Linked DNA regions of Homo sapiens. The protein of the gene in region 1 interacts with the protein of each later gene in a biochemical or structural test. Each region holds a gene or a part of one and is shown on either strand. Other genes may lie near its edges.

The links.
Region 2: the proteins of PMPCB (region 1) and FXN form a complex in vitro, tested with the Homo sapiens proteins (one study listed by BioGRID).

Annotation. Positions count from the first base shown.
Region 1 is NC_000007.14:103,300,435-103,307,486, reverse strand, and holds part of PMPCB (mitochondrial-processing peptidase subunit beta isoform 1 precursor), read right to left. Parts: intron 3,646-7,052; coding exon 3,447-3,645; intron 3,077-3,446; coding exon 2,997-3,076; intron 1-2,996. UniProt on the Homo sapiens protein: Catalytic subunit of the essential mitochondrial processing protease (MPP), which cleaves the mitochondrial sequence off newly imported precursors proteins. Preferentially, cleaves after an arginine at position P2.
Region 2 is NC_000009.12:69,062,604-69,080,061, forward strand, and holds the end of FXN (frataxin, mitochondrial isoform 1 preproprotein), read left to right. Parts: intron 1-2,334; coding exon 2,335-2,432; coding exon of another isoform or gene 2,433-2,440; intron 2,441-10,008; coding exon 10,009-10,159; 3' UTR 10,160-16,473; downstream 16,474-17,458.

The DNA.
Region 1 (7,052 bases):
AAAAGCCATTATTTAAGAGTAAGCTCACATAGCACACCTATTTCCTTGGTGTTGCAAAGCTTGAGGTTGCACAGCTTTCTCATTTTGTAGAGCAAATGACAGTTTTCATCAACAGACCAATGGATTCACAGCTAAGAATAAGACAACTTGAAAACTCCACGTTTTACAAAATCATTTTCTATTAAATTATAAAAACCTCTGGGATCCAAACTAGCAAAAAATGCCAATTTTCAAAAAAAAAATTTTTTAGTGGAAAATACAAATATGGGCTCTATCTAATTTTTAAAAAGCTGGAGCTGGGCATGGTGGCTCACGCCTATAATCCCAGTTCTTTAGGAGGCTGAGGTGGGAGGATCATTTGAGTTCAGGAGTTCAAGACCAGCCTGGACAACATAGCAAGACTCTGTCTCAATAAAATAAATTTTAAAAGCCGGGTGCCATGGCTCACACCTGTAATCCCGGCACTTTGGGAAGTCAAGGTGGGCAGGTCACTTGAGATCAGGAGTTCAAGACCAGCCTGGCCAATATGGTAAAACCCTGTCTCTACTAAAAATACAAAAATTAGCTGGGCATGGTAGCAGGCGCCTGTAATAATCCCAGCTATTCAGGAGGCTGAGGCAGGAGAACTGCTTGAATCTAGGAGGTGGAGTTTGCAGTGAGCTGAGATCACACCACTGCACTCCAACTTGGGTGACAGAGCAAGACTCTGTCTCTAAAATAAATAAAATTAAATAAATAAAAGAAAGCTGGATACACAGATAAACTTTATTCTCCATGCTCTGCTATCAGAACTCAGGAACAGGGCCTGGTGTGGTGGCTCACGCCTGTAATCCCAACACTTTCGGAGGCTGAGGCAGGCGGATCACCTGAGGTCAGAGGTAGAGGTAGACCAGCCTGATCAACATGGAGAAACCCCATCCCTACTAAAAATACAAAATTAGTCAGGTGTGATGGCAAATGCCTGTAATCCCAGCTACTCGGGAGGCTAAGGCAAGACAATCAGTTGAATCCGGAAGGCGGAGTTTGCGGTGAGCCAAGATGATGCCATTGTACTCCAGCCTGGGCAATAAGAGCAAAACTCCATCTCAAAAAAAAAAAAAAAAAGAACTCAGGAACAAAATAGTGTCATCTAAATTTCTGAATACATCAATAGGTATCCAAATGCAAAAACTCAGGAATTACTTAGACTCTATATCCCTTACTTGAGACCCAAATTAAGATTCTTTAACTTAATTTACAATTAAAATGTTAAATTATAATTTTATAATAAATGAAGCTAGGATACAAAAAACTATTTGGCAAATAAAAGCTATACATCCTGATGATTAGCCTAGAAGAGATAAATGGTAGCCAAGACATAATTCAGAGGTCAGCAGAAACTTAAAACTGGCCTATTTCATTGAATTTAAGATGCAATCATTTATAAGGCACATCACTTATGTAGTATTTAAAATGAATACTAATTAATCTATAAGCCATTAAACTAAAGATATCTCAATTTTAGCTATGTCAAAATGAACCCATGAACCAAAGTAAAACTCATTTTGTCCACATGCCACCAACAATGGCAGAGAGGTCCCAGAAAGCTTGGTTGTTGAGGACCCATCTAACAAGTCTCTTGTCCCATTTCCAAGGCAGTTTCAAACACTTAAGCCCAAGTCTGCAAGAGCCAATTTAGAAACAATGTTACTCAAGAGAATTTCAGAGTGCACTTCCTGCCATGTACAATGAAGGTAGCTACAATGAATAACATGTTTGATATTTAATGTTTTCATCTTCTCCATTACCCGCCAGGTACTTAGCTCAGAAATCAATCCAGAGCAACTAGAATTTTTAAATTATGATCTCTAAAAAGAGAAAAATTTACAACACGAAAGAACACTTCGCTTTGCTCTAATATTAAAAAATACAAAGAAATGAAAACTGGAGACCAGGTGCGGTGGGTCACGCCTGTAATCCCCAAGTTTTGGGAGGTCAAGGTGGAAGGATAACTTGAGCTCAGGAGATTGAAACCAGCCTGGGCAACATAGTTAAGAATCCATCTCTATTTCTATAAATGTATTTTAAAAAGAAAAAAATAAAAAACTGGAAACCAATTAAAATGTACTGCTGTCTAGATTCAGACTGCCAGGAAATCTGGCAATATCTGTTGTCAATTTTTTTTTTCATTCACTGGCTTCAAACATGACCTCAAGGAAACCTTCTGAAGTCACCTGCATGTTTGGATTCCCATTCAACATTCTTATGGCTCCCTATGTGCTTCTCCTTCCCAAAAATTAGATCTATTAAATGAATGATTGAACAAATCAAAGAATGAACATACCCGTTCCATGCTTGAACAAGGACGAAGTTGGTTCTCAAGAAATAATTTAAAATCTCAAAAAATTCTCAAAGTACAGAACACCATCTTCCGACTCTCTCCCAGTTCACTCCTTTGCCCTTTTCTTGCACGTTCTACTATGTACGCTTATGTATTGAACAGTTCATTAAGTCTTTCTATAAATAAAACCTACTTTTCTTTTTTTTTTTTGAGACAGTCTCACTCTGTCGCCCACGCTGGAGTGCAGTGGTGCAATCTTGGCTCACTGTAACCTCCGCCTCCTGGGTTCAAGCAATTCTCCTACCTCAGCCTCCCGAGTAGCTGGGACTACAGGCGCATGTCACCACGCCCAGCTACTTTGTATTTTTAGTAGACATGGGGTTTCACCATATTAGTCAGGCTGGTCTTGAACTCCTGACCTCGTGATCCGCCCACCTCGGCCTCCCAAAGTGCTGGGATTACAGGTGTGAGTCACCATGCCTGGCCTAAATGAAACCTACTTTAAAAAAAATAGAGGGAAATTCTGATTCCAGTGCTCCACATTCCCCTTACACACTATCAGTTATTTGCTATGTAAATGAAAATTCTTAGGGTATCTCCCAACAGGATCAAACTAATAAGCATACCACTCCAACAACTGTGTTTAAAACATTTGTAGAAATTTAAATTGACTAACCTCCAGCAGCAGCAAGCACTATTCTTGGCCCCTTATAATGTGTGGTTATATAATCCACTAAGTCCTTACGACTTATAGATCTGTAAATGAAGTAAAACAATTTTTAAAGGAAACCAAAAAAAAAACAGATCTTCACATAATATACCTGAAATCAAATTGGACCATAACTGTATCCTAAAATGCAGTCAGAAATAGGATACAGGCAACACATCAAAGAACTTCACCTTTTTTACATCAAAGAAAAAATACACCATTACTGGTTTATTCCCGAAGTACCTATGAACTCACGTGCTTGGGAGCTAGGTGGGACTAAAATGTAGCTAACTACAGTTTCACTTAGATTACCAGGGGGAAAATTACTTTCTGAAACATACTTTTTGAAAATTTGTAAATGTTTATTTTCAACATTCATAAATTCCCTTATACACCAAGAAATTCTGTTATACCTACTTGATATTTTCAGTTGGTCCCAAAATTGTCCGTCCAAGTGCAGTATTTTGATAAGCTGTGGCATGAAGATAATCAAAAACAACTTCTTGTAAATTGGTTTCAACTTCCTGCATCTCTCTAAGGATTACTCCACGCTCACGTTCAATCTCTGCTTCTCCCAATGTGCTGTTTTGTATTATATCAGCAAGAATTTCTACAGCTAATTGAAAATAAAATATAAGAAAACGTGCCAGCAATCTTAACTTTCACTATTAAAATCTATTAAACCAAAATCAGAAATCATGACACTGACCCATCACTCAATACTAAATGATTAGCCTAGGAGAAAAACATCAGATATACTTAACAGGACAAAATTAAAATTTAACATATAAACCCCTATAGTACAAAAGATTTTTTCCTTGGGGAAAAAGTATAAATTTGCCATCACCTTGTAATGACTCTACCTACTTAAAAAATGCTATGGAAATTTGCATATTAATATAGATTGTTCTATATGAAAATTACAAAGTTATATATATTAGTCTGAAAATACCTAGCTAGCAATGTACAGAGGGTTTGTATCACCCAAGTATTTACTATGCAAGTTCCCACAGCAATGACAGTGCTATGTTAAGAAGCAAAGAACTGGTCAGGCACCGTGGCTCACACCTATATAATCCCAGCACTTTGGGAGGCTAATATGGGCTTCAGCCCAGGAGTTCCAGACCAACCTGGGGAACATGCCAAAATCCTGTCTCTACAAAAAATACAAAAATTAGCTTCGTGTGGTGGCATGTGCCCGTAGTCCCTGCTACTCGGGAGGCTGAGATGGGAGGATGGGTGGAGCTCGGGAGGCAAAGATTGCAGTGAGCTGCGATTGCACCACTGCACTCTCGCCTGGGCAACAGAGAAAAGAATCCTTACAATCTAAAATATGCCCCAAATGAATCACAGAATTGTGTGTTCTCAAACCCTAATTTGCAAAAAGCCAAAAGTGAAGTGGAACATGTTATATTAGGCCATTAAGCAATTTTATCAGAAAAAGCGCATACCTCTCCAAAAAAAAAACTGTGCTTCATTCTTGAAGAATTAGTACATAGTTGCAATCATAAATCTAAATTTCATTAATACGATTAATGTTATAAAATAAACTTACAATCTTAAGTTTCTTTTTTTTCCCCTAAGAGACAAGGTCTCATTATGCTGCCCAGACTGGACTCAAAATTCCTGGGCTCAAACAATCCTCCTGCCTCAGCTTCCTCCAAGTAGCCAAGACTAAAGGCATGTACTACCGTGTCTGGTTTAGGTTTCATTTTTTACTCTACTACAAACTGTTGTTGCTTGTTTTAATTAAGTTCACTTTAAGGGGCACTGTCTCAGAACTGATTATGTTCAAATACTAAGAACATGACAGAACAAACTATTATAGTAAGCTGTGGCTGAGATCATGACCAAAAGGAAAAAATTATCTGTAAAACCAAATAAAACCCATCTGTCCAGATAAGAGAACAGAGTCCAGTAAAATGGGTGAGAAAGAGCCCATAGACAAATGGAAGGACAAGAATTCCTGTGTGAAAATCCTCCTTTATGTGGGATTGGTGGTCTACCCTGGTAGTTTCCAAAGGCAGGGAGGGGGGCTCCTATTTCCCAGTCTGTTTTAATCTGAATCTTTTTTTTAAATGTGTATTTAATATATGTTAGTATAGTAGCACATGTATTTAACTTACAAGTATACATACATTAAGGATATATGATCAACTTTCTTACCAATAAGAGTAAGTGATCATCATGCACACGTATGTTTACTGCAGCACTATTCACAATAGCAAAGACTTGGAACCAACCCAAATGTCCATCAATGATAGACTGGATTAAGAAAATGTGGCACATATACACCATGGAATACTATGCATCCATAAAAAAGGATGAGTTCATGTCCTTTGTAGGGACATGGATGAAGCTGGAAACCATCATTCTGAGCAAACTATCACAAGGACAAAAAACCAAACACCGCATGTTCTCACTTATAGGTGGGAATTGAACAATGAGAACACTTGGACACGAGGTGGGAACATCACACACCGGAGCCTGTCGTGGGGTGGTGGGAGCAGGGAGGGATAGCGTTAGGAGATATACCTAATGTAAATGACGAGTTAACGGGTGCAGCACACCAACACGGCACATGAATACATATGTAACAAACCTGCACGTTGTACACATGTACCCTAGAACTTAAAGTATAATAATAAAAAATAAAAATTAAAAAAAAAGAATAAGTGATCATAAAAACCTGGAGACCATTAGTCTAAACATCTAATTATTACTTCATATACCAGGCTTCACACCCAGGGTGAAGGGTGAAAAACCCCAAGTAAATCCCCAAAGTTGGAGCTGCTTCAGAGAGCACTTCCATTTTGCATTCCTCAGGGAAAGCCCCTGTTTTTCCACTCCCACTAGCAGAAGCTCTGTCGTTCCCAGCTAGATGCCAGGAGAAAAGGGGGAAAAAAGTCGTTTAATTTCATCCTTCCTTTTTCTGTTTCTCCTTTTTGCCTTCCCTGTTGTTCTGTGTAAATAAAGGAAGGAACTAGGCTGGAATGAACAACTCTTTAAAGAACCTTGGCCTAGCCATATGTTCTTGGTCCCTAATTAGTCCTGGGACAAAAACTGTCTCTATTGGTTTTGTTATTCAAACCAACATACCCTCCATCGTTGCTGTCATTTTTGTTTTAATGCAAAAGTTAGGGTATCATATTAAGTATTTTAGTTATTTACAAGTGATAGGTTTCTTATTTTATTGTTTTGACAAAGCAAATGAATCTGGTAAGAAGACACGCACTTGAGTCCACAGTAAGCCACCTGATAGCTATGCAATCCTGGGCAAGTCAGAGTCTGAGCTTCAATTTCCACAACTGCAAGGTGGAAACACCTATGCACATCAAATGGATAATATATACACAAAAGTACTTGTGTTAAGTGCCATTTAAACATTATTAATGAAAGTCTATTAGGAATCCAAAATTGCAAAGTAGTAACTACAACTACAGAAGGACCTTAAAGGTTAAAAATTTCACTAATGGCCGTGCACAGTGGCTCACGCCTATAATCCCAGCACTTTGGGAGGCCGAGGCAGGTGGGTCACTTGAGGTCAGGAGTTTAAGTCCAGCCTGGCCAACATGGTAGAACCCATCTCTACTAAAAATATAAAAACTAGCCAGCTATGGTGGCAGGAGCCTATAATCCCAGCTACTCAGGAGGCTGAGGCAGGAGAATCACTTGAACCCAGGAGGCAGAGGTTGCAGCGAGCCGAGATCACACCACTGCACTCCAGCCTAGGTGACAGAGCGAGACTATCTCTCTAAACAAAAATAATGAGTTTACCAATTAGCTCTAAAACTGCTAAATTTTGTTGTTAATTCTTCCACTGGGAAATGTTTTGTGTAATAACTTTTAAGAGAGTCAAAACAGTCTACAAACATGGTAACTAACAAACTGCTGTCCTGACAAAATATTTTATTCCCACCAAATAATCTCTATTTTATTGCTACATATTAAGAAAAACCATCATCCATAATTTACTATTTGTCATATTTAGAAAAAAAATAAGATCAGCTGTACCCTCACCCA
Region 2 (17,458 bases), on another chromosome or scaffold:
AAAGTAGTCAAAAATCACAGAAACACCACCATAAATGTATAATTTTTATTTTCAATTAAAAAAACATCTTTTTTTTAGTCAAAATCATAGAAATAGAAAGTAGACAGGTGGTTACTAAGGGCTATGGGATGGGGAAATTAGTGTCTAATGGGCATAGAGTTTCAGTGTTACAAGGTGAAAAGTTCTAGAGTTATGCTGCCCAGCAGTGTGAATATACTTTATTGTTCTGTACACTTAACATGGTTAATATGGTAAATTTAGCGTTATGTGCTTTTTACTATAGTAAAATTAAAAAAAAAAAAAATGGGGCCGAGTGCAGTAGCTCACACCTGTAACATAATCCCAGCACTTTGGGAGGCCGAGGTAGGAGGATCACTTGAGGCCAGAAGTTTGAAACCAGCCTGGTCAATATAGCGAGACCTCATCTCTACAAAAGAAAAATGTTAAAATTAGACAGGTGTGGTGTCTGTAGTCCCAGCTCTCTGGAGGCAGGGACTGAGTCAGAGGATCACTTGAGCATAGGGGTTTGAGGCTGCAGTGAGCCATGATCCTGCCACTGCTGCAGCCTGAGCAACAGAGCAAGACCCTGTTGTAAAAACAAACAAACAAAAACTGGCAGCTGATACCTGAGAGTGAATATCTTTTATCGCTGGTTAATGGGATTGAGAGAATGCTTCATCTTATAGAAAGAACAGTGTCTTTGGACCCACAGAGACCTGGATTTAAGATTAGCTCTGCCAATTACTGAGTACTCTTTACTATGAACCTCTGTTTTCCTCATCTGTGAAACTGGAATAATGAATCCTACCGCCAACAATTGTAGTCAAGTTGGAAACAATTTACACAAAGTGCCAAACACCAAGCCTGGCACAGTAGGAACCGAGTAAATAGTGGTTAATATTTTTATCAGTGTCTGCATTGCTGACGTCTCCATCATTTCTATACATTTGTTTTTGAATCAGAAAAAGATGTTATTTTAAAAAAATAACCCAGTAGTGCCCCTTGTCCCATTCCTATCAGTTATATTATTATTGTTACTACCCTCTGGAATTTCAATAACTCTTTGTTTTTTGGGTTTTTTGTTTTGTTTTGCTTTGCTTTTGAGACAGGATCTCTGTCGCCCAGTCTGGTGTGTAGTGGTGTGATCTCAGCTCACTGCAGCCTCAACCTCCTGGGCTCAGGTGATCCTCCCACTTCAGCCTCCCAAGTAGCTGGGACCACAGGCGCATGCCACCACACTTGGCTAATTTTTGCATTTTTAGTAGAGACAGGGTTTTGCCATATTGCCTAGGCCGGTCTGGAACTTCTGGGCTCAAGCCATCTGCCTGCCTCGGCCTCCCAAAGTGCTGGAATTTCAGGCATGAGCCATGCCTGGCCTAAATAGCTCTCTGTGTTTGCAAAAGTGTGTTATAAGAATCATTCAGAGCCTCTCGATTGGATGGAGGCTCTAGAATGCACAGAAAAAGGCTGCCACCGTGTATCTCTGCAAGTCATGCACAAGATGGGGAACAGCAGGCTTCCCCCTGCTTACCAGTTCAAATACAGAGAACTAGCCCTGTAGCTGTTTCTTTCATATCTCACCCATTCTAAAGAGACCACAGGCCTTAGAAGTAAAGGACTCTTTTGTTGAAAGAGTGTTTTCAAATTTAAATGAGCATTTATTGGTCAAAGATGCACCAACTAGTCTTTTGAAGAATTCAAGGCTCTTTAGAGAAAAATAAAGCCTTGGAGGAGTATCTGAGAAGCTTGTTAGATGCGTGGGAAGAGTCTGGAAATAAAAAACTTCATCTGGAGTTTCTGCCTTCTACCAACAGAGCTGAAGCTAATGCTCTCCTAAGACAAGCAAAGCAGATGGTTTGCATACTTCCTTACCTTCCTTTTACTTCCTCTGTAATAGACTTGTCATGTCTGATGTTTGAGTTGACGTGGTACTCTAATAGAGTTAGAGTCTGCATTTTTTTTATGTCCTCTAGTATGTTCTGGTTGATGGTTGAGGGCAACAAACCAGCAGTCCCAGATGCCAGCACCAAGACCTGAGACAGGTCACTTAACTCTCCGAGCTTCACCACCATTCTCACCTTGCAGACCTCACAGGGAACAGGGAAAGCTCTATGAGATACAACATCATTATGATTAATCCTATTCTGATTCTGAAAGCAAAGCTCTTCCTACACAAACTCCTATTTCTAAATACTAAAAGACATTTCTTTATGGTGTATTTTGTGTACTTGTAGAAATGGAAAGTGTTGAGATAAAACATGAAGCAATGATGACAAAGTGCTAACTTTTTCTTGTTTTAATTTCTTTATGCTTTTTTTCCACCTAATCCCCTAGAGTGGTGTCTTAACTGTCAAACTGGGTGGAGATCTAGGAACCTATGTGATCAACAAGCAGACGCCAAACAAGCAAATCTGGCTATCTTCTCCATCCAGGTATGTAGGTATGTTCAGAAGTCAACATATGTAATTCTTAAAGACTTCCGAAATGTGACATTGTGGACCATTTAAGAAATGTCGGCTGAGCACAGTGGCTGACACCTGTAATCCCAACACTTTGAGAGGCTGAGGTAGGAGGATCACTTGAGGACAGGAGTTCAGAACCATCCTGGGCAACATAGTGAGTCCCTGTCTCTGTAAAGAAAATAAAAATAAAGTCACAGCTGGGTGCAGGCTTACACCTGTAATCCCAGCACTTTGGGAGGCCAAGGCCTGTGGATCACTTGAGCTCAGGAGTTTGAGACCAGCCTGGGCAATGTCACAAAGCCCCACCTCTACTAAAAATATAAAAATTAGCCAGGTGTGGTGGCACACGCCTATAGTCCCAACTACTTGGAAGGCTGAGGTTGAGCCTCAGCCTGAGCCCAGGAGGTGGAGGTTGCAGTGAGCCAAGATCGCGCCACTGCACTCCAGCCTGGGCAACAGGGCCAGACCCTGTCCCAAAAAAAAAAAAAAAGTCATCGTCTTATGTTAGCATCCTTGTAAGTGAGCCTTTCCTGATATTTTGCAGCCTGTCTCATTCTCAGTAGAAAAGTTTACTCTAGTTACATAACTTCTCCCTGCTGACAATTTGGATACTGTAAGCAGGCATCAGGATATTAAGATCTGAAGTGAGTAGCTTATAACTTTTCCAAATCCAGCCTAGACAGTTTTCCTCTATTAAATTATTGCCCTGACTTTAAAAGAAGCTACTTTTGACCTTGTAGCGTTTGAACAAGTTGCACTTTGTCTTCAAAGCAAGTTAAAGTTTGACCTCTACTTGTTTTGAGCCTCTCAGGTAAAGGGTTATTTGAATTCCCTTTGCAGGTTGGGGTTGTGTACCCTGTGGAGGTGGTAGAGTGTTATATATTGCTGCTCCAGGGCATTTAATCCCTCCTGCCTTTTCCATTGATGTGCTTTCAATCTAGAGGAATAAAAGATTGTGTTGGAGACACAATGTGGCCTGCATAGCATCTGAAAGCCTGAGAACATGCAGGGAGAGACATCCCTCATCCCTCAGCAGCCTGGCTGCTGTTGAAGTGGTTGTAAGAAAGTAAAAGAGAAATGCCCACAAAACGTTCTCAGATCCAGTCATTCATTAGCACTTCCAAAGAGAGCATGTTGACTGTGAATTGGGAAAGGGCCAGATAAAACTAGCATAGAATTCTTTGAAAGACTAACGGTATTTGCATTTTTTAAAAATTATAACCTTACTCTACCCCCTAACATTGACATCATTTTTAGGTAATTAATATTTTCCCATTTATTATTCTGTGATCTCTAATGCTTTGTTCAGAATAAATAGTGTGTTTCCTTTCCCCACACTTTCATCCAAGAAGTGTGCTAGAGTTCAACAAAAACAGCACTAGAAATCACTGTCATTCTAGGAAGGCCCTAATTCACAGATTGTATTGGTTTTTAGACCCAGTTAGTGTGCTGGAGGTTGGAGGATTTTAACCTCTGTGGGCCAACTAGCCTCTGTGGCCTCAGTCATTCTTCCTGACCCTGGCTGTGCTTGAGCCTGTGTGTTCTTATCCTTCATCTCCGGGGGAACGAAGTGGATCAGCTCGGTCCAGCGATCACTTTTGGGGATCAGTGGCTTTGTAGATATCGGGCAGGCACTTACCCCAAAAGAACTTTCCCCATATCTGAAGACTGAAAACGTCCATATCGTATTTGGACACACTGCCCAGCAATACGCTCTAGCTGTGTTCAGAAGCATGGGAATTTGGAAAGATCTGCTGAGCATGCCGTTTACTGTCACAGATACTATCTTCCTCAAAAAAAAAAAATATATATATATATATGGGGGACGGGGCAGGTTGAGACTGGGTGAGACTGAAGAGGTGCCTTGGCCAGAGCAGGCCACACCCAGAGACCACAGGCTCCCCGGTCCACCTCAGGCCCCTCCCCTTCCTGCGCCGTTTCCGGCAGATCCAGAGTGGCCACCGCCGGATGGGAGTCGGGGGAAGGGAGGCAGAGAAGCGGGCCCTGAGGACAAGCTCTCAGTGCTTCTGTGGGAAGTGGCGGCAAGACGGCAGCTCCCAGCGGGGGATGGAGGCCGAGTCAGTCTGCTGGTCACTGGAGGCCAGGATGCTGCCTAACACAGCCGTCCCGCTCCGGGCCTCACCACCAGGGCGGCTCTCCCCACTCCCGGCCTGCTGCCCACACAGACTGCGGGGTTCCGGGGGAGCAGGACCCAGGCCGTTCTGCGCCTGTCTTCTTGGAAGGAGCAGGCCGGAGCGCGGGAGCGCCGTGTAGCTGTACCTGCGAAGGCACAGGATTCCGCGGGAAGATCCCGCAGTTTCGGGCCGTCGTCATTGTTTTTATACCTGTGGCAAATGGCATGACCAGACACACGGTTATGTCTGGAGAAACCCCTGTAGAGGAGCAGGAGGTTGTGGACATGCTGTGGCCCGGACAGTGGCTGCCGAGCAGTTGGAGCCTGCACCCGCCCAACTTGGCTAAAGAAGTCCCCATACTCTCTGTGGAAAAGATTTCCAGAAGCTGTTGTGTCAATATCAAAGCCTCAAAACAACAACAACAACAACAAAAACATGAAATTATCAACAATAAAGATCATCCTTGAGTCTGCTTTGAAAAGTAGGGTGAAATTCTGCAGAGGCATTCAACTGGCAAGATACCACCCTCATAGCCAGATCTGCAGGTCTCAGCCATCATGCCAGGGAAAATGCTCCATTCACCACTCCTCAGCTTCTGCTTCTGGTTTCAGAGGTCTCTGTATTGGAGGGGCTTTAAAGCAAGAAGGGTCTTTACCCACTTACTCTTATTCACAGATGTGAATATGCAGGTCCAGTGGGGAAAGTGACATGTCCTAAGTCAGAATAGAGTCAACAAGAAAACAGGGCCCAAAATGACTTAGCCTCTAGTGTATAATGGGCATTGATGAGCTACTGGAAATACAGAGATGAAGAAAACACAGTCCCATCTTCAAGGAGCTCAATCTAGCAAGGGAGACAGACTCTTTGTAGGTGGGACCGGGCTTCCCTGCAGCAGAAGGAAGCTTGAAATTGGTAACGAGCCTCAGAAGGGACAGAGGCAGGCCACCATGCTACCCTGAGAGGATCGCATGTGGACACGGGGCTATGACCTGGCCCTGCTTTGACCCACTAGCTGTGCTGTAGGGCCAGGTGGAGCCTGGAGTGGCCTGTGCTAAGGGGCTACTATGAGCTCTTTCCACTCCCCCAAGGCATTGCATAAATAATGTCACTTTCTGTTTGCACAGCAAAATCAGGGACACAATTTTCTAGAACATGGGGTGCCTCCCCTCCCCCCAGCCCAACAGAAGTTCTACAATGACTGATGGGCCCTTGTTTTTGTTTGAGACGGAACACCCCACAGGGTTCCGAGTGGTGATTTGTGGCCCACAGGCCACTGGCAAGTGGAGGCAGAGCTGCAGAGCCCTCGGGAGCCACAGAGGGCCTGCTGGCCGCCACGACATGCCAACTCAGCTGCTGCTGGCCCTCCTGTGGGCGGCAGTGCTAGTGATGTGCAGAATCTTAGGACTAGTGCCAAGGAACCTATAAATACCCTGGGTGACCCAGGCGTGCACTGCTGTGGTGGCCTTCACAGTCAGAAGATGACAAGCTGAGAAGGGGAGAATCGGCCCAAGGTGAGATCCACAGAAAGGCCAGGGCCAAGATGCGGCCAGCACCTCAGGCTGGTGGTGGTCTTACGTTGACCATGCCAGAGGCCAGTCCTTGATTGCTCCAAACCCTCTGTTCGAGGGTTCCAAATGAAATGAGCAGGTCCTCGTGTCAGGACCTAGGTTAGTTTCTGAAAAAGCATGAAAAGCAGGCCTCCTGAACTTCCCCGAGTGACTGATGCAAAGTGCGTCCTGCATGCTTCACAGCACCATGGAGAGGATCTTCAGGGGCAAACTGCAGACTATCTGAATGACGGCACTGACCATCAGCAAACCGCAGAGCTGCCTGACCAAGAAATTGCGAGACAGAAGCAATGCTTGCAGGCGAAGAAGAAGGGGCCAGACACAGTGGCTCACGCCTGTAATCCCAGCACTTTGGGAGGCCAAGGCAGGCGGATCACTTGAGGTCAGGAGTTTGAGACCAGCCTGGGCAACATAGTGAAACCCTGTCTCTACTAAAAATACAAAAAATTCGCCAGGCATGGTGGCAGGCACCTGTAATCCCAGCTGCTTGGGAGACTGAGACAGGAGAATTGCTTGAACCCAGGAGGCGAAGGTTGTAACGAACTGAAATCGTGCCACAGCACTCCATCCTGGGCGACAGAGTGAGACTGTCTCAAAAAAAGGAGGAGAAGAAGGAAAGGCCAAGGCAGGAATGAAACAGGCCATGAATGTTGGAGTGAAGCAACTGGCCTCCTCGTGCTAAGCGGCTACTGTGAGTTCTTTCCACTCCCCCAAGACATTGCATAAATAATGTCACTTTCTGACACTCACCCCGCTGAATGTCCTGCCTCTGCTCAAGGGTGGTATGATGGGGACTTGGCAGTGGAGGGGAACAGGGAAACCAGACATGGTGGTCTCCCCGCTTCCTGGCTACAAGTCCCTCTGAAGAAATCCAAAGGAGTAAAGAGCTTGGAGAGTAGGCCTCTGTAGGGTGCAAGGGCACAGCTGGAGACGGAGCTCCTGAGGCTGCAGCTGATGCTGCCCGCTCTGCCTGAACTGCACCAAAAACGTGATGAGGCCATAGCGGGAGTCCACGGAGGAGGATGCCTACTGCCCGACCTCTAGCAGAGACTAAGCAAGGTGCATGAAAACTTGAACCACATGTGTCACACCCATGACCACTACATGAAGATGGCCCAAAACCTGGCCCAGGAATTGAAGAAAGACTCTTCCAATTTGCTGTAAGAAAATGGCCCAGGGGGCAAGCACGGTAGCTCACACCTGTAATCCTAGCACTTTGGGAAGCTGACGCAGGCAGATGGCTTGAGCTCAGGAGTTCCAGACCAGCCTGGGCAACATGGTGAAACCCCGTCTCTACCAAAAATACAAAAATTAGCCGGGTGTGGTGATGCATGCCTGTGGTCCCAGCTACTCAGGAGGCTGAGGTGGAAGGATTGCCTGAGTCTGTGGGGCAGAGGTTGCAGTGAGCTGAGATCACACCACTGCACTCCAGCCTGGGTGACACAGTGAGACCCCATCTCAAAAAAAAAAAAAAGAAAGAAAACGGCCCAGGAAGGCTGGAGGGCCGCCGTGTCCATTGAGAGAGTGCTCCAGGCACTCCAAAAAGAAAATGACCACAATGGGAAGAAACCAGCTGACCATGAGACCAAGTTCCAACCTTTTACAAGTGGCCTGTGGCTCCTGGCGCCCCGCCCACAGCTGACAGGGGCTCAGAAGTGCTAGGGGGACCATGGGCCACCAGGGCCACCAGGAGGGAGGCAGGTAACGATGCGAGGGCTTGGATGCAGAACACCAGCTGGTTTGATTCTGTTTTCCCTGTACCTGGGTCCTGAATGCCCAGAGGCTCAGGGAAACACCAGCCAGTGCTGCTGCCTTTAAAGCACTTTTGACTGATCTCTTGTTAATTTAGCAACTGTTATTGGTTGATGCTGCAGTTGCTCTTATTGAAGTTTGATTGATAGCATTAGGATGGTAAGGCACTATTTTTCAAATAAAGGTTGTTTAATATAAAAAAAATTTTGTTTTTTTTTCTCTCAGCCTTTCACATTGGTTCAAAATATCTTTCATCTGGCTGCATTTCTGATTTTTGTTTTGTTTTTTTTTTCTTAATTTTATTTATTTTTAATTAAAAATAATTTTTTTTGTCAACATGGGGTCTCACTTTGTTGCCTAGGTTGGTCTGAAACTCGTGGCTTCAAGCAATCCTCCCACATCAGCCTCCCAAAGTGCTGGGGTTATGGGTGTGAGCCACTGCAGCAGCCTGTTTTTTTTGTTTGTTTGTTTTTTTTAATTTGACAAGTTTTCAGGTCCTGTGAAATCAGCAGTCTTACCTCCCACCTTGCGCACCCTGAGGAGGTTGCAGAATAAAGGAGAATTCTAGGGACACGTGGGCATCAGTGCCTGTGCTCAGAGCACCTCAGGCAGTGTGGAGGGGTCTAGAGGTTACTCAGGCTCTGCCTGGCAACCCGATAGCAGTATCAGAGTATAGGGCCAAGGGGACGGTCCTTGGGCTTGGTGTGGTTTATTAGTCCTTTTCCTGTGACCCTGATGGTTTGGTTCACTCATTTTTATCTCCATACTGGGAACAGGTTCAAGCCCCAGCATTTGGTTGATAATGCAGGAATCCTTGATACTTTTATTGCCCAAGCTTCCCTTCCTGGTGACCTCATCCTAGCCTCAGTCTTTGGAAAAGCCCTCCTTGAGTGCTCAGGCAGACTCAGGTGCCCTTTCTTCTGGGCTCCCATGCACTCTGTTCTTACCTCCATCAGGGTGCCACATGCACTAGTGTTATCTGCTGCCGTGGCCAATCATCCATGAGGCCATGAGGAAGTGGAATGTACATCTGGTATAAGAAGACATGGCAGAAGCCAGCCTCCGATCTGTCCACACGAATACAGCATTCCCAAAGCAACGTGCATGTGCCATTATTCACTGGATGAGCTTGAGGTGGATGAACTAGCCCACCAGGCTCTCAATGTCATGAATTTAACACTGAATTAAGAAAAATATGTTTTAAAAATAATAGTTTAGGTGATTGCTGGGGTGCTAGGAGAGGAAGGAATGGGGAATAACTGTTTAATGGGTATAGTTGGCCTTGTGTATCTGTGGGTTCCACATCTGATTCAACCAACCGTGGATCAAAATATTTGAAAATAAAAAACAAAACAAAAATGATACAAATAAAAACCAATATAACAACTATTAACAGCATTTACATTGTACTAGGCATTATAAGTAATCTGGAGATGACTTAAAGCATACAGAAGGATGTGCCTAGGTTAGATGCATGTATCGTACCATTTCATATCAGGGACTTGAGTACCCACGGATTTTGGTATCTGCAGATCCTGGAACCCCTTCCCTATGGATACCAAGGAACAACAGCACTGGGTCTCCTTTTGGGGTGATGCAGATGTTTTGAAGCTAGGCAGAGGTAGTGGTTGCACAACATTGTAAATGTACTAAATGCCACCAAATTATTCATTTTTAAATGGTTAATGTGTTATGTGAATTTCACCTTAACAACTAATAATATTATAGGTAAGGCACAAGTTACATCTGTAGCACAAAAATGGCCCTAATTTTTAAAACACTGCTCCAGCATAGCAGGTATCACATGTGAGGTAGCAAAAGCTGGAGATCAAAGTGTGATACCTGGAGACTTATCAGTAAGGGTCAAATGTTTTTTCAGGTTTTGAGAATCATTCTTGGAATTGTTCCAGAAGATATATCGTATAACTCTTCTTAGATGCTAAGATAAGAAGGCAGATATACACTAGCTCATTTTGTGTTATTTTCTAGAGCTTTACTCCAGTCAATTTCTTGGGGGCAGCATTTGTGGAATCAGTGGTTCATCTGAAGGGCTGTGCTGTGGAATTACTATGCATTTGTTTTGTCTTCCAGTGGACCTAAGCGTTATGACTGGACTGGGAAAAACTGGGTGTACTCCCACGACGGCGTGTCCCTCCATGAGCTGCTGGCCGCAGAGCTCACTAAAGCCTTAAAAACCAAACTGGACTTGTCTTCCTTGGCCTATTCCGGAAAAGATGCTTGATGCCCAGCCCCGTTTTAAGGACATTAAAAGCTATCAGGCCAAGACCCCAGCTTCATTATGCAGCTGAGGTCTGTTTTTTGTTGTTGTTGTTGTTTATTTTTTTTATTCCTGCTTTTGAGGACAGTTGGGCTATGTGTCACAGCTCTGTAGAAAGAATGTGTTGCCTCCTACCTTGCCCCCAAGTTCTGATTTTTAATTTCTATGGAAGATTTTTTGGATTGTCGGATTTCCTCCCTCACATGATACCCCTTATCTTTTATAATGTCTTATGCCTATACCTGAATATAACAACCTTTAAAAAAGCAAAATAATAAGAAGGAAAAATTCCAGGAGGGAAAATGAATTGTCTTCACTCTTCATTCTTTGAAGGATTTACTGCAAGAAGTACATGAAGAGCAGCTGGTCAACCTGCTCACTGTTCTATCTCCAAATGAGACACATTAAAGGGTAGCCTACAAATGTTTTCAGGCTTCTTTCAAAGTGTAAGCACTTCTGAGCTCTTTAGCATTGAAGTGTCGAAAGCAACTCACACGGGAAGATCATTTCTTATTTGTGCTCTGTGACTGCCAAGGTGTGGCCTGCACTGGGTTGTCCAGGGAGACCTAGTGCTGTTTCTCCCACATATTCACATACGTGTCTGTGTGTATATATATTTTTTCAATTTAAAGGTTAGTATGGAATCAGCTGCTACAAGAATGCAAAAAATCTTCCAAAGACAAGAAAAGAGGAAAAAAAGCCGTTTTCATGAGCTGAGTGATGTAGCGTAACAAACAAAATCATGGAGCTGAGGAGGTGCCTTGTAAACATGAAGGGGCAGATAAAGGAAGGAGATACTCATGTTGATAAAGAGAGCCCTGGTCCTAGACATAGTTCAGCCACAAAGTAGTTGTCCCTTTGTGGACAAGTTTCCCAAATTCCCTGGACCTCTGCTTCCCCATCTGTTAAATGAGAGAATAGAGTATGGTTGATTCCCAGCATTCAGTGGTCCTGTCAAGCAACCTAACAGGCTAGTTCTAATTCCCTATTGGGTAGATGAGGGGATGACAAAGAACAGTTTTTAAGCTATATAGGAAACATTGTTATTGGTGTTGCCCTATCGTGATTTCAGTTGAATTCATGTGAAAATAATAGCCATCCTTGGCCTGGCGCGGTGGCTCACACCTGTAATCCCAGCACTTTTGGAGGCCAAGGTGGGTGGATCACCTGAGGTCAGGAGTTCAAGACCAGCCTGGCCAACATGATGAAACCCCGTCTCTACTAAAAATACAAAAAATTAGCCGGGCATGATGGCAGGTGCCTGTAATCCCAGCTACTTGGGAGGCTGAAGCGGAAGAATCGCTTGAACCCAGAGGTGGAGGTTGCAGTGAGCCGAGATCGTGCCATTGCACTGTAACCTGGGTGACTGAGCAAAACTCTGTCTCAAAATAATAATAACAATATAATAATAATAATAGCCATCCTTTATTGTACCCTTACTGGGTTAATCGTATTATACCACATTACCTCATTTTAATTTTTACTGACCTGCACTTTATACAAAGCAACAAGCCTCCAGGACATTAAAATTCATGCAAAGTTATGCTCATGTTATATTATTTTCTTACTTAAAGAAGGATTTATTAGTGGCTGGGCATGGTGGCGTGCACCTGTAATCCCAGGTACTCAGGAGGCTGAGACGGGAGAATTGCTTGACCCCAGGCGGAGGAGGTTACAGTGAGTCGAGATCGTACCTGAGCGACAGAGCGAGACTCCGTCTCAAAAAAAAAAAAAAGGAGGGTTTATTAATGAGAAGTTTGTATTAATATGTAGCAAAGGCTTTTCCAATGGGTGAATAAAAACACATTCCATTAAGTCAAGCTGGGAGCAGTGGCATATACCTATAGTCCCAGCTGCACAGGAGGCTGAGACAGGAGGATTGCTTGAAGCCAGGAATTGGAGATCAGCCTGGGCAACACAGCAAGATCCTATCTCTTAAAAAAAGAAAAAAAAACCTATTAATAATAAAACAGTATAAACAAAAGCTAAATAGGTAAAATATTTTTTCTGAAATAAAATTATTTTTTGAGTCTGATGGAAATGTTTAAGTGCAGTAGGCCAGTGCCAGTGAGAAAATAAATAACATCATACATGTTTGTATGTGTTTGCATCTTGCTTCTACTGAAAGTTTCAGTGCACCCCACTTACTTAGAACTCGGTGACATGATGTACTCCTTTATCTGGGACACAGCACAAAAGAGGTATGCAGTGGGGCTGCTCTGACATGAAAGTGGAAGTTAAGGAATCTGGGCTCTTATGGGGTCCTTGTGGGCCAGCCCTTCAGGCCTATTTTACTTTCATTTTACATATAGCTCTAATTGGTTTGATTATCTCGTTCCCAAGGCAGTGGGAGATCCCCATTTAAGGAAAGAAAAGGGGCCTGGCACAGTGGCTCATGCCTGTAATCCCAGCACTTTGGGAGGCTGAGGCAAGTGTATCACCTGAGGTCAGGAGTTCAAGACCAGCCTGGCCAACATGGCAAAATCCCGTCTCTACTAAAAATATTAAAAAATTGGCTGGGCGTGGTGGTTCGTGCCTATAATTTCAGCTACTCAGGAGGCTGAGGCAGGAGAATCGCTGTAACCTGGGGGGTGGAGGTTGCAGTGAGACGAGATCATGCCACTTCACTCCAGCCTGGCCAACAGAGCCATACTCCGTCTCAAATAAATAAATAAATAAATAAAGGGACTTCAAACACATGAACAGCAGCCAGGGGAAGAATCAAAATCATATTCTGTCAAGCAAACTGGAAAAGTACCACTGTGTGTACCAATAGCCTCCCCACCACAGACCCTGGGAGCATCGCCTCATTTATGGTGTGGTCCAGTCATCCATGTGAAGGATGAGTTTCCAGGAAAAGGTTATTAAATATTCACTGTAACATACTGGAGGAGGTGAGGAATTGCATAATACAATCTTAGAAAACTTTTTTTTCCCCTTTCTATTTTTTGAGACAGGATCTCACTTTGGCACTCAGGCTGGAGGACAGTGGTACAATCAAAGCTCATGGCAGCCTCGACCTCCCTGGGCTTGGGCAATCCTCCCACAGGTGTGCACCTCCATAGCTGGCTAATTTGTGTATTTTTTGTAGAGATGGGGTTTCACCATGTTGCCCAGGCTGGTCTCTAACACTTAGGCTCAAGTGATCCACCTGCCTCGTCCTCCCAAGATGCTGGGATTACAGGTGTGTGCCACAGGTGTTCATCAGAAAGCTTTTTCTATTATTTTTACCTTCTTGAGTGGGTAGAACCTCAGCCACATAGAAAATAAAATGTTCTGGCATGACTTATTTAGCTCTCTGGAATTACAAAGAAGGAATGAGGTGTGTAAAAGAGAACCTGGGTTTTTGAATCACAAATTTAGAATTTAATCGAAACTCTGCCTCTTACTTGTTTGTAGACACTGACAGTGGCCTCATGTTTTTTTTTTTTTTAATCTATAAAATGGAGATATCTAACATGTTGAGCCTGGGCCCACAGGCAAAGCACAATCCTGATGTGAGAAGTACTCAGTTCATGACAACTGTTGTTCTCACATGCATAGCATAATTTCATATTCACATTGGAGGACTTCTCCCAAAATATGGATGACGTTCCCTACTCAACCTTGAACTTAATCAAAATACTCAGTTTACTTAACTTCGTATTAGATTCTGATTCCCTGGAACCATTTATCGTGTGCCTTACCATGCTTATATTTTACTTGATCTTTTGCATACCTTCTAAAACTATTTTAGCCAATTTAAAATTTGACAGTTTGCATTAAATTATAGGTTTACAATATGCTTTATCCAGCTATACCTGCCCCAAATTCTGACAGATGCTTTTGCCACCTCTAAAGGAAGACCCATGTTCATAGTGATGGAGTTTGTGTGGACTAACCATGCAAGGTTGCCAAGGAAAAATCGCTTTACGCTTCCAAGGTACACACTAAGATGAAAGTAATTTTAGTCCGTGTCCAGTTGGATTCTTGGCACATAGTTATCTTCTGCTAGAACAAACTAAAACAGCTACATGCCAGCAAGGGAGAAAGGGGAAGGAGGGGCAAAGTTTTGAAATTTCATGTAAATTTATGCTGTTCAAAACGACGAGTTCATGACTTTGTGTATAGAGTAAGAAATGCCTTTTCTTTTTTGAGACAGAGTCTTGCTCTGTCACCCAGGCTGGAGTGCAGTGGCACGATCTGGGCTCACTACAACCTCCGCCTCCTGGGTTCAAGCAATTCTCTGCCTCAGCCTCCCGAGTAGCTGGGATTACAGGTGCCTGCCACCACACCCGGCTAATTTTTGTATTTTTAGTAGAGACGGGGTTTCACCATCATGGCCAGGCTGGTCTTGAACTCCTGACCTAGTAATCCACCTGCCTCCGCCTCCCAAAGTGCTGGGATTACAGGCGTGAGCCACTGCACCCAGCCAGAAATGCCTTCTAATCTTTGGTTTATCTTAATTAGCCAGGACACTTGGAGTGCATCCCGAAGTACCTGATCAGTGGCCCCTTTGGAATGTGTAAAACTCAGCTCACTTATATCCCTGCATCCGCTACAGAGACAGAATCCAAGCTCATATGTTCCATCTTCTCTGGCTGTATAGTTTAAGGAATGGAAGGCACCAGAACAGATTTATTGAAATGTTTATTAGCTGAAGATTTATTTAGACAGTTGAGGAAAACATCAGCACCCAGCAGTAAAATTGGCTCTCAAAGATTTTCTTCTCCTGTGGAAAGTCAGACCTCTGAGGCCCCATCCAGGTAGAAGTACTAGTGCAAGAAGGGCCTCTGCTGTCCACTTGTGTTTCTGTGATCTGTGGGAACATTGTTAACGCCACATCTTGACCTCAAATTGTTTAGCTCCTGGCCAGACACGGTGGCTCACACCTGTAATCCCAGCACTTTGAGAGGCTGAGGCAGGTGGATCACCTGAGGTTAGGAGTTCGAGGCCAGCCTGGTCAACATGGTAAAACCCCGCCTCTACTAAAAATACAAAAATTAGCTGGCCGTAGTGGCGCACGCCTGTTATCCCAGCTACTCGGGAGGCTGAGGCAGGAGAATTGCTTGAACCTGGGTGGTGGAGGTTGCAGTGAGCCGAGATTACACCACTGCACTCCAGCCTGGGTGACAAGAGGGAAACTCCATTAAAAAAATGTAATTCCCGTGTCTGCCATCTTAAGTGTAAAGGTGGCTAAATTATATAGAAAAATAAGACAATATCATTTCCCAATTACATTCCTTTCCTACCGCACTCTATGATGCTAGCTGAGATTTTTCCAAAAGAAAATGGCTTAAATAAAACCCTAAGAGAAAGAAAAACTTTAAATCCCTCCAAAGCTCAAAAGTAATAGAAACAGATGAGTTTGGAGTCAGGATTTCTCTGTAAGATTGCCTAGGCTGTGTACTGCACATCTCCAGGTGCCACTGTTGACAGAGATTATAACTACAATGTGAAGTGAATGGTGCCACTGACAGTTATGCAAACCGTCCAGAGCATAGCCACCTGATCCTGCTGGGATTCCTCTTGCCAGTCCATCAGCAGTTCCCCTTGAAAGTTTCACCAAACATCCCTTAAATCTGCCCTCTCCTGCCCGTCCCCAGTGGAGGTCCTCATCATTTTTCACCTGCATTTTTGCAGGAGCTTTCTTATATCCACCTTCCTCCTTTTCTCTCAGCCCATCATCTAGCTACACAGTCTCCAGGGTAAGCTTTCAGAAAGGCAATCTCTTGTCTGTAAAACCTAAGCAGGACCAAGGCCAAGTTTCTTAGCCTGAAAAATGTGCTTTTCTGACTGAACTGTTCAGGCACTGACTCTACATATAATTATGCTTTTCTACCCCCTCACACTCAACACTTTGACTCCAGCAATCCCAAATCCCCAGATCCCTAAGTGTGCTGTGCTATTTTCACGTGGCTCTCAGACTTGGCCAGTGCTGTTTCCATTTTGGTCTTTATTCCCCACATCTCTGCCTGGGGGGTAGATTCTACCCTGAAAAATGTTCTTGGCACAGCCTTGCAAACTCCTCCTCCACTCAGCCTCTGCCTGGATGCCCTTGATTGTTCCATGTCCTCAGCATACCATGTTTGTCTTTCCCAGCACTGACCTACCATGTGTCACCCCTGCTTGGCTGTACCTTCCATGAGGCTAGGACTATGTGTCTCCTTTGTTGACTGCTGTTGCCCTAGCATCTTGCACAGTTCCTTGCACACAATTAGAGCTCTATAAATGTCAAATAAATGTGTTATAATTATATGTTTAAGATAGTTGTTCAAATAAACTCTAAATAACCCCAACTCCAAGAGTGTTAGCAAGAAATATAAATTTTACAGAAGAATGGTTGGAGGTGGGGAGGGTGTCCACGGAGTGAGTTACCTCACACAGGCACGGAAAAACTTGAACCTCCTAAGGACATTTTTAAGCTCTCTTTCCCATTTTCTCTCCTGGATTCCCATTGCCTGGTCTCATTTCTCTCTTCTCCACCACACCACTTCCTCAAAAATTCCTTTAGGGTTTGTTCTTAAGCTTAGATAGGTTTCCCATTCTGAAATACAAAGGCCTGATAATTAGCCAACTTACCTTGTTGGGGATGTGGAAGGCAAGACTCTCAGACTCCATGACTCAGGTATATTGCAACAATTAGGCTGAAAGTTCCTTGAGAGTAAGTGTCCAAATCTTTTCATGTTTGGTTCCCAGGGCTCACTACAGTTGTTGGTATATCATAGGCACTCTAATATCTTCTTAAAGAATCAATATCATTAAAATGGCCATAACTGCCCATAGCAATTTACAGATTCAATGCTATTTCTATCAAACTATCAAGGTCATTTTTGTTTTATTTTTTTTCTTTGAGATAGAATCTCGCTATTGTCACCCAGGCTGGAGTGCAGTGGCGCGATCTCGACTCACTGCAACCTCCGCCTCCCGGGTTCAAGTAATTCTCCTGCCTCAGCCTCCCGAGTAGCTGGGATTACACGTGCCTGCCACCACACCTGGCTAATTTTTGTATTTTTAGTAGAGACAAGGCTTCAACATGTTGGCCAGGCTGGTCTTGAACTCCTGACCTCAGGTGATCCACCTGCCTTGGCCTCCCAAAGTGCAGGGATTACAGCATGAGCCACTGTGCCCGGCCCATGGTAATTTTTCACAGAATCAGAAGAAACTATTCTAAAATTCATATAGCGGCCAGGCGAGGTGGCTCACGCCTGTAATCCCAGCACTTTGGGAGACAGAGGCAGGAGGATCATCTGAGGTCAGGAGTTCGAGACCAGCCTGTCCAAC